Linked DNA regions of Homo sapiens: region 1 is linked to region 2. The links come from fine-mapping of genetic effects on gene expression. A gene starts in region 2. The other region holds a variant in brackets. All regions are shown on one strand. Distances are between the middles of the regions. Region 1 overlaps AKAP13 (A-kinase anchoring protein 13). Region 2 holds the start of AKAP13 (A-kinase anchoring protein 13).

Region 1 (5,377 bases), 160 kb before region 2:
AGTCCCAAGATTTCTACTTTGAGATGTGTGAGTAAGAGATCAGCCAGATCCAATAACATCTGGCTCTAATATTTTCTTCTTAGATAACTACAATGCCACGCTCATCTGATATTGTCACTTCCTAGCATTCATGACACCAAGAGCCTGCAAACTGGGGTCTTTACCTATTCTCTCCATTACTAACTAGTTAGGTGACCATGGGTGGGGTCTTCAAATCAGAGGAGATGATTGTCCAACTAAAGGAAAAGTAGGCCTACATGTTTTGGGTACTCTTCTGGGGCTAAGATTTCTCAGGCAAGACAGAAAATTAAAGAAAGGGAAATAAGAGATAACATATATGTCAATCACTGAGTTATGCTCCCTACATGAATTCTTTCATTTACTTAGAGTGAAACTTAAATACAATGTATTTAAGATGAATTTTCAGATCACAAATGCATTCATATTCATAATGTAAGATCTAAATATAAGCTAAAGTGAAACAGCAAGTCAACAAAAGCTCTGCCTTCCCTAACACTGAACAAAGTGAAAGTTAACAATCATGGGTTACAAAAAAGGGAAACTGTAAAAAAAATGTCCTGAGTAGTTATTACTATCTGGTAGGATTTAAAATAAAGTTCAAGTGTTTTCTAAAGGGATAGGTCTTAGAGAATCCTTATATGTCCAAGAATGGCTAATCATAATTTTCGCAGAAGTAAGACTTGCTTTATCAAAATAGACTGGCAATCAAAATAAGCCTTGAACAAAGAAACACAAAAAGAACTTGGGCCCTAACCAGCACAAGGCTCCCCACACCCCACTTAAAAATTAAAAAGCAAAAAACAAGGTAAAGCACCAAGGAATTAAAACAACAAATGTACTTGGGAAGGGCTATAAATGGGGTTAAATAAGCTTGACTTTTCAGTAAAGTGTAGAATGCAACTAGTTATTCAATAAATGTAAAATATACATAGCCATACTTCAATTTCATACTAACTGAAAAGAGGCAATAAAAGAGGCCGGCTTATATGTGGACAATTTCATTTTTAAAAAGCAGGGTGGGGAAGAAGATACCCAAACTATTAGAAAGATAGCATCATGGCTGGGCGCGGTGGCTCACGCCTGTAATCCCAGCACTTTGGGAGGCCGAGGTGGGTGGATCACGAGGTCAGAAGTTCGAGACCAGCCTGACCAACATGGTGAAACCCCGTCTCTACTAAAAATACAAAAATTAGCCGGACATGGTGGCGCATGCCTGTAATCCCAGCTACTCAGGAGGCTGAGGCAGAAGAATTGCTTGAGCCTGGGAGGCAGAGGCTGCAGTGAGACAAGATCGTGCCACTGCACTCCAGCCTGGGCTACAGAGCAAGACTCCATCTCAAAGAAAAGAAAAAAAAAAAAAAAAGAAAGATAGCATCATACATTGTGGCGATTCTTAACTTTCTACAAACCCCTTCGTGAATCTCACCAACAAATGCTTTATTCAGAAAAACATGTGCATAAACCTTTATAATTTCAAGAGATACAGACCCCATGAAGTCTATTCTTGGGCCACTTTTTAAGAATCCCAGGAGTGGAAGGAAAGAGCTCTGGACAGCTTTTGGCTTCTATTTCTGGTCATACCACCTTGTTATCTTCATCCAACCACTTTGTCTCTCTGGATCTCAGTTTCATCTGTTAAAGATGATCTTTTCTTTTTAAGGCTGTAGTATTCCGTTATATGAATATACCACATTGTCCATTTATCTGTGATGGACATCTAGGTTGTTTACACTTTTGGCTGTGTGTGTGTGTGTGTGTGTGTGTGTGTGTGTGTGTGTTTGGTAACAACAATTATATAAATTTATTTATGGGGTACAGTGTGATGTTTTAATCTATGTATATACCATAGAAAGATAAAATCAACCTAAGTAACATATCCATCATCTCAGCTACTTATTTTTTTGTGGTGAGAAATACATTCTTTTTTAGCAATTTTGAAGTACGTATTGTTTTTCTGACACGTTACAACATGGGTGAACCTTGAGGACATTAGCTATGTAAAAGACAGACACAGAAAGACAAATGTTGCATGATTTCACTTATATGAGGTACCTAGAATGGGCAAATTCTTAGAGACAGAAAGGAGAACAGAGGTTATCAGGGGCTGGAGAAAAGGAAGTTCAGTTTGGGTGATGACAAAGTTCTGGAAATAATAGTGGTGATGGTTACGTAACTCTGTGAGTGTTGTGATGGTACTGAATGCTACTGAATGCTGTCCCTAAAATTTACTATTTTAACCATTTTTACGTTATGTATATAGGAAAAGAAAGGGGAAGGAAAGGAGAAAAGAAAACCAATAACAAAATGATCATTCTTGATTCTTTAACAACTGAAATTCTACCAAATTCTACTAGAATCACTCTCACACTGAGTGATTTGGGACAATCGCCCCCTTTCCATTTTTTAATCGCTAATTATGACTCAGAACTTTTTCTAAGCTTCACAACAGTAACATCCCAGAATTCAAGTTAAGAGCTAGATCTGCAGCAAGGTGCTCATCCTCTCCTATCAGGGTCCTCTATTGGTGATTTCTCAGGTTGGTTTTCCCTTACCAATCTCCCTTCAAAAGGAGGTAAGTGGCTTTCCCACATGTAACAGAAGTAGTACTTTTAAAGTAAGCAAAAAAAAGTCAAAGAACAAACACACTCTAGTTTCCTTAAAGCTGTGCTGCAATAACAGTCTTGTGACATCCCCTC[C/G]AAGGATATAATGAAGCTGTTGTAATCACTTTATTTCCCCATTTGGATGGCAGTCCTTAACCAACTCTGCTTCCCAGCAAAAATCAAATTTAGAGGAAATGCATTTGAACTTCACAATAGTTATGCAGAGTTAACTGTTTCAACTTCTGAAACAAGGCCTCTCTTCCTGAGGCCATGAGGCTAACCGTAGAATGAATCCAATCATTGGCCAGATGGGAAGTGTGAAGGAGTAGAATGTATCACTCCCTGGAATACTGTCTTAGGAGAGCTCAGGTATCCAAAGCTCATTTGAGATAAGTGCCCCTCCTACCACCACTGTATCTGTAGCACCCATCAGAAAGCTTTCTGCAAAGAACTGTCTGTCTAGCGTGATGGGGAAAGGTATAAGCCTGGCAAGTGAATCAAGAAAAAGCTGTTTACATAACCGTAAGTAGCACTACATTCTGAGGTCTCTTTTTGGTCCTTCCAGACTATATACACAGTTAAAAATGGTAAAACATAAAGCACAACTAAATTAAATCTGGCATGAGCAAAATATCTGAGAATTTGCTAATACTGACTCAATTTGCACAGGTCCCTCAATTGCTAAAGAACATAGATCCAATGGGTTTATACTTGTTCAGATAATGTGGTGGAAAAGATAATGATGATAACCACAAAACTAATAAAAATGTATTAAACAACAGAAACTATTCTTGAAACTTCTTTATATAAACATTCCAATAAAAACTTTTGGCTGCTCTAGTGTGTTTATTTCTTTATTTATACAAGAATAAAAGAGCGCTCTTCAAATGTTTTGACTAACAACCTTCCTCTAGAGAACTCTTTAAAGAGTCAGGACATATAATAATTGAGCCCAAAAACAGACAGGATTTCCTACTGCACATTTCCAGGACAATTCAGTTGCTTTTTATTGCTGTTCATATGAAGAAACCACTGCTCTCAAATTTTATTCACAGAAATTACATTCAATCCAAAACTTAATTGTTTACAATATTTTCTGTATGCAATTATAATATGGAAGTACTGGTTTCTAATTAACTCTTTCAAGTCTTAAAGACATACCAGAAAAAAATATATGATATAGGAAATCTGTTTCCTCTTGTACTAAACCAGGATAAACTGTATACATTGGTAATGTTATGCTACCTCCACAGACAAGGCTCATTCTGACTTTTGAGTAAAATAGTAAAATATAAGAGATAAGAATTGAAGAAGGCAGGCAGGCAGACGAGAGAGAAAATGGTTAACACGACTTACGTTTCTCTCTCAGACAATGAAGTGGTTAGCAGGAGCAAGCTTACAAACCTCCAGCAGAAGGCAAGATACAGAGCTGAGGTTTTAATTTGCGGCAAACACACAATGAGATGCCAAGTGGGTGGTACTCCTATGAATCGGGGGTGGGGCTGGGGATGAGAGGAGGGAAATAAGGCAGAAGGAGCACTTACTCGGTTAGAAGCTGGTGCAGCTTGTGATAGCCTCGCTCCAAGGCCAAGCTCACAGGCGTCGCCCCTTCCTGGTTGTGGATACTGAGAGCTCCGCGGCCACCTGGCTTCTGCAACAGGAACCACGTCAACCTCAGCAGTCCCAGCCGCACAGCAAAATGCATCAATGTCTCTCGCGGGCCAGCATCTGTAAATGGGGGAGAAAATGAACGTAAGTGAGGAAAATATAAAAACAAAAAACAAACAAACATAAAGACAAGTTATGTAAACACCACTGCCTCCAAGTGCCTAAGATTGTAAAGTTAAGCTACAACATACAGTGTGAACAGCTTTATTGTGGCCAGGTAGAATCAGCCCTCAAGTAAAGGCAAAACAAAGCTACAAAAGCATAGAAAGTATAGGAAGCAAAATCTTCAATCGAACACAGTCCTGCAAAAGAGAATCAGGACATTTCTATATTCTGACTTAATACACAGTGTTTGTTCAACCAATTTCACAGGCAGGCATATAAAGGCGACCCATACACACGTTCTTTTACTCAAATAATAATAACAGAAGCAAATGCAGCCCCACAACATGAGGTCCAAGAGGGAATAGCTGTTGGGACTTAAATGGGTGTATCATAAATGGTATAATTACTTTTTAAAAGAACACCCAGACAGGAGTTGGCTAGTTAAACACTAAAAACAGGTTCTGCTTGTTCAGTACACATGGGTCTTTTTATTCCTACACAATAAGGGCAAATCAAATTTCTGGCACTGCCAGCTTTATTTATTTGTTTAATGAGAGGAAGAAATGCATCTCCTGGCACAATAAGGAAGACTAACTCTAAGACAATCCACTAATAACTGCAGAAAGGAAAACGTTTATTTAACTTGAAATAAAGGCTCCCTCTTAGTAAAGTGAGTCACTCTGAAAGTGACAGAATGAGGAAGGGCTTGTAGTTAGACAAATCAGGGTTCGAATCTGGCATTTACCATCTGTGTGACCAAGCGTGATTCATGTAACATCTCTGAACTTCACTTTCTTCATCCCTAAAGTGAGATACCAACACCTCACTCACAGAGGTGTAACAAATGAGAAGAGGTAGATGAAATGCTAGTATTATGACTGGCTGTAGTAGACATTCATTAAATCCCAGTTCCTCTCTGTTTCCCGGCTCTCTTCACTGTCCTCTTGGACATCAAATTACATTCAAGGTTCACTAGCAATACT
Region 2 (5,377 bases):
GCTGAGGTGGGAGGATGGCTTGGGTCCAGGAGTTAGAGACAACTGGGCAACAGTGAAGATTCCGACTCTAAAAAAAAACAATAATAATTTCACAAAAAGGGGGGGGCTGATTTCTAAATTGGAACCTCTTGTTGAAATCCTTAGAGCGCTAGTTAAACCCACTTCTTTTCAAAAAATAATTGACAGATTAAAAAAAGGTTAGAAATCCTTTTAAAGTAAATGTCATCACAGATCTGCAAGTGAACTGTCATTCTGGACAGGTCCCCAGTTAGTGGCTCTCTCCTGTGTACGCTAGCTACCACTAGGCAGTAAAAATAATTTACCCAATTCAAACACGTACCGTGCCTGCACTATGTTAAGACTACCGGCAAAGAGGGTAAAAAGCTAAATAAGGTCTATCACAGCCCTCAAGGAGTTAAAGGACTAGAGGAGGAGTCCATTTATAGTATAGTATGTGTGCAGTTACCATTTAGTCAAGGCAAAAGAAGTGTGAGAAATCCTAAAACAATAGTACCTACAGTATAACATGCCATCACCGCCCAGAGAAGGAAAGCAACTAGTGCACTCGTCACGTCATGTTGTAAGTAGTACTTGCTTACATTATGTCCCTCCCTGACAATCCCTTCCAACCTCTGTCAACCTCCTTCCCCACAATCACACACACAAAACCACACAACCAGGAAGGGAAGCCATGGAGCGAGTACTGTGAATCCTAAAAGCGGCTCTGTAATTTAAAAGTGCAATGGCTGTACCTGAAGAAAATTTGTCTTTAGCTTCATCAGGTGAAGAAAATTGGTTTTATAACACAAGGCCCACCAAACCAGAAAAGCCCAGGAACGCTTCTCCACAGGACTCACTTAGCACGAGAAATCACTCTGAGCAAACTGACACACACAGTATTTCTCAAATTTTTCTTTTTCATTTAGCAGATGGTAAAGGAATACAACTGAAGTTAACAATAAATGACACTCTGGCCATTTTGCTCCACTATGAATGACAGACATTTAAGCTAGTTCCATCTGGGGAACTGAAACAGAATCATGTTCATATAATAAGCCACACAAACCAAATTAAGTGTAATATGTGCACCCAAACTTGACAAAACTTGTACTTAATGCAGCCTGCAAATCCCCAAGAGTCCACGACAGAATACAAGAATAGTAACAATGATTTATCTCAACTGATCTTAGCTTCTTCACAAACTTGCCAATAATGACCTTTCAAGAACTGCACCGTTTGTCCTCATCTGCGCAATCCAACAGTTCAGAAAAACTGAAGAAAATGCTTCTTCTAAAAATAAAACACTTGTTGTGGGGGGGACTACTAACAAAAAAAAAGGCACACTGGTTTTTACTGTACTGAAGCAATAAACTCTCCAAATAACTTCATTAAGGAGTGTCATTAGCAAAGAATGAACACCAAAATACCGCTCAATCCAATTTTCATTGTGAATTCCGGGATCTAGAAAATTAAATGGGACGGTATCACTCTGCTATAAGAACTATTTCCAAAACAAAACAAACCTATCTACCCCCTTTCTTGATTTTTTTTTAAAAAGTTTTAGGGTTTTTCCTTTTTTCAACTTCACATACTTCGTGGCTTTGCAAAAAAAAAAAAAAAAAAAAAGCAGTAAACCGTATTTACCAAAAAAAAAAAAAAAAGTTTTGTTTGGTATCAAAGTATAGCTGCAAGCTGAGCCGGCTGGCTGCACGGGTCCCAGAGCGCGTGGGGACCGCACGGGTCTCCTGGGCCGCTCGCCTGCGACCCGCGCGGGTCAGCTGGGCCGCACCCCCGAGAAGCCGCGGAGAGGCACCGACAGGCAGGCGCGGCCCGACGTGTTTACCGTCCGCGTCGACCCCGGGGAGCCGCTCCCTCGCGCCCGCAGCACTTGTTCACGGCGCGGACTCCACGGCGGGGACTCCACACCGCGGCCGCCCGCCCCAGGGGAGGAGTGAGCCCGCCCCGGCGGCGCCGACCCGGGGACCCGGGGCAAGGATTCGGGGCCTCGCTGGGGGCGGAGCGCCTGAGGTAGCATCGGCGGCCGGGCGCGCCCCCCACCCGGAAAGCGGCGACGGCCTCTAAGTTGGGCTGCGGAGTGGGAGGCGCGCCGAGCCCCAAGCAGACAATGCGGGAGAAGGGCGATGCGCAGGGAGGAGGGGTCCGCAGACCTGAGGTCCCGGCGCCGCCCGGCGACCCGTCTGTCCAGCCCGCCCCCGAAACCCCCGCAGCCCCCGCCCCTCCTCCGGGGCCCGCCCCACCGAGCAACCGCAGGGGACTGGCCGCGCTCCGCGCCCCGACCCACAAATCACAAAACTTCCCCCAACTCCGCCAACTAAGTTGCGCTCTCACCGTGCGGCTCCCGGGGCTCCCCCGCGGGCCGAGCTGGGACAACTCTTCACCTTCGCCGCGGAGAAAGACAATAGGCGGCCGCTCCCCCGGAGGCGGCTAAAGCGGCGGCGACCGAGGCGAGCAATGGGCACGGCAGTCTCGGCAGAGCACAGGCGCTTCACCGCGGCTGCTCGGGCTCCGCGCTGGCCCTGCACACAGCTCCAGTCCGCGCATGCGCCGAAAGACGCTCGGGAGGGTGGGCGGGGCACGCGGGAAGGCGGTAACGCCTGCGAGTCCTCCCGTGAGTACACGCGGAGCAAGAACTGCGAGCTGGGATTGCACGGCAGAACTGCCCATCTCGCTGCATGAGACCAATAGTAAGGCTCCTGGACGGGGCACTCAGGTTGCTAAGGGAGGCTGAGGTTGACCGCCGCTGCTGCTCGGCGGCAAAGTGATCAAAGTAGGGTGGCTGGCAGAGGCTGCTCTGGGAAATGCCCACCCACGGTCTCCTCTCCGCCCTGTCTCCAGAAACCGCCCTTCCTCTGTGTACTGGTGGTTACCTGAGCTGCAGCACTTAACCACACATCGTGAAATGATTTACTCCTCTATTTCCCCCACTTCAACTCAGGAAGTGGGGTTTAGTCTTCTGTGTCCACAGCCTAGGACCGTCTAAGGTATTAGGTATTAAATATAGGTATTAAACAAGTGTTGGATGGATGCACGGCGCTATGGCGGAATCACAATTGTGACAGTGCATTCCGTGAACTTCTGGCTACTCGATCACCACAAAGTCATTCCGTGTTCGAGCTGCAAAGGACCTCAAAAATCATCTGGTTGCTTTGGGAAACAAAATGTGGTCCGTGTACCAATGGTGCCGGTAACCACCGGCCCACAGAGGAAGGGCGGTTTCTGGAGACAGGGCGGAGAATATATTAGTTGGTACACGAAGAAACTTCTTTTTTCAAATAGTTAAGTGTTTTTAGTGCGCATTAGGAGGGAAATGCCTATCACGTCAAACCACTGTTTCATTAATGTTATTTCTTAGGTCAAATAAAAAGTGGCAAAAAACGAAAGCACTTCAAGAAAAGTGTTAAGTAAAAAACTGAGACAATTTATATGCAGTTGAAGAACGTGTAAAACTAGTTGATAGTGATTGAAGTAAGAACAGCGGTTAGGTAGGAGGAGAAGATTATTGGCTGGGAAGGAGGAGGAGGGAACCCTCTGGGGTGCTGGTTCTGTATTTTGACCTGGGTGATAGATAACAAAAGTATATACATGAATAAAAAATACATCCAGTGCACTTTAGTGCACTTTGCACATTTTAAACATGTATTTTTAATGTCAGTTTTCAAAAATCTGGTACAGGATATTACCCCCCCGCCCCCAAAAGAAAAGCAAAGATGCAAATGACTGCCATTTGGGAAACACTGATCCAGGCGGCTCACTAGCAGTGACCAAACACCTGAGAAAGGGTATTGTGAATACCTGATGTGTGTGCCAGGAACTTCCATTGTTGAATAGCTCCAAATCTCAGAAATGCTCCTAATGTTGAGCTCTGGTGCTCACATATATTTTCTCTTTTTTTCTTTTTTCTTTTTTTTTTTTTTTTTTTTTTTGAGGCAGAGTTTCACTCTTGTTGCCCAGGCTGGAGTGCAATGGTGCAATCTCAGCTCACTGTAACCTCCACCTCCAGGGTTCAAGCGATTCTCCTGCCTCAGCCTCCCAAGTAGCTGGGATTACAGGTACCCACCACCACACCCGGCTAATTTTTTTATTTTTAGTAGAGACAGTGTTTCACCATGTTGGCCAGGCTGGTCTCAAACTCCTGACCTCAGGTGCTCCACCCACCTCGGCCTCCCAAATTGCCGGGATTACAGGCATGAGCCACCGCACCCGGCCCTATTTTCTTAAGTAACCCTCACCGAATGGCTTTAAAAAAAAAAAAAGAAAAGAAAAGAAAGGCCAAACATGCCCAGTTCTTCATGTGAAATTATTTCTGTATCACTTCATCATGCTGCTCACCCTCTTCCACTGTTCTCTAATCTGTCCTTGTTGATTTTTAAAAACTGGCACAAGGCCTGGCGCGGTGGCTCACACCTGTAATCCCAGCACTTTGGGAGGCTGAGGAGGGCAGATTGCTCGAGCCCAGGAGTTCGAGACCAGCCTGGGCATCAATTGAAACGCCATCTGTACTAACAAATACAAAAATTAGCCAAGCATGGTAGCCCAAATCTTAGCTACTTGGGAGGCTCAGGTGGAAGGATTGCTTGAGCCCAGGAGGCAGAGGTTGCAGTGAGCCAAATCATGCCACTGTACCCCAGCCTGGGTGACAGAGCCAGACCCTATCTCAAAAAAAAAAAAAAAAAGGCTGGCACAGAGAGAGAAGCAGCCTATCATGAGCCGGTCACTTCTCAAAGAACCTGAGTCTTCTGTGAAGCAAGAGTGCTAACCAAGAAAATCACTTGGACCCTAACATTTGATAACCCAGTGAACTTCCCCCTTAGAACCTAGCTTGTTTGTTTCAGAGGCAGCAGTAAATGTTACCATGTCATCTTTCTACGGACACTGACAACACCGTTCCCTGCTCCCCGCCTCAGCAGGATTTACACCTTTCCAGTGGGCTGCAGGAAAAGTTAAGAGTCTAGCACTTCTTGAATTTACTGTGCTTACAAATCACCTGGGAGTGTTTGTTAAATGTGGATTCTGATTCAGTAAGTCTGGGGTGGCATCTGGGATTCCGCATTTCTAAAAAGCTCCCAGGTGCTACTGACGTAGCTATTTTGAAACCCGACTTTTTTTTTTTTTTTTTTTTTTAAGACAGAGTCTCACTCTATTGTCCAGGCTGGAATGCAGTGTCATGATCTCGGCTCACTGAAACCTCCGCCTCCCCGGTTCAAGCGATTATCCTGCCTCAGCCCCCCAAGTAGCTAGGATTACAGGTTCACACCACCACACCCAGCTAGTTTTTGTATTTTTGGTAGAGACAGAGTGTCACCATATTGGCCAGGCTGGCCTTGAACTCCTGACCTTAGGCGATCTGCCCGCCTCG

What was found. PIP is the estimated chance that this variant, and not a neighbour inherited with it, causes the effect.
Region 1: its variant is fine-mapped to the expression of AKAP13 in whole blood (TOPMed, PIP 0.94).

Annotation. Positions count from the first base shown.
Region 1 is chr15:85,542,744-85,548,120 of GRCh38, reverse strand. AKAP13 (A-kinase anchoring protein 13) reads right to left here. Exons shown (of 37, transcript NM_007200.5): 5 at 4,166-4,349. Among named protein-coding and RNA genes, the nearest start is that of AKAP13, 160 kb to the right of the region's middle. The variant C/G (reference allele first, on the strand shown) is at 2,718.
Region 2 is chr15:85,377,771-85,383,147 of GRCh38, reverse strand. It overlaps AKAP13 (A-kinase anchoring protein 13), which reads right to left and starts at 2,545. Exons shown (of 37, transcript NM_007200.5): 1 at 2,350-2,545. MIR7706 (microRNA 7706) reads right to left here and starts at 2,552; the gene lies at 2,486-2,552. RefSeq lists silencers at 1,841-2,008, 1,665-2,234, 2,615-2,694.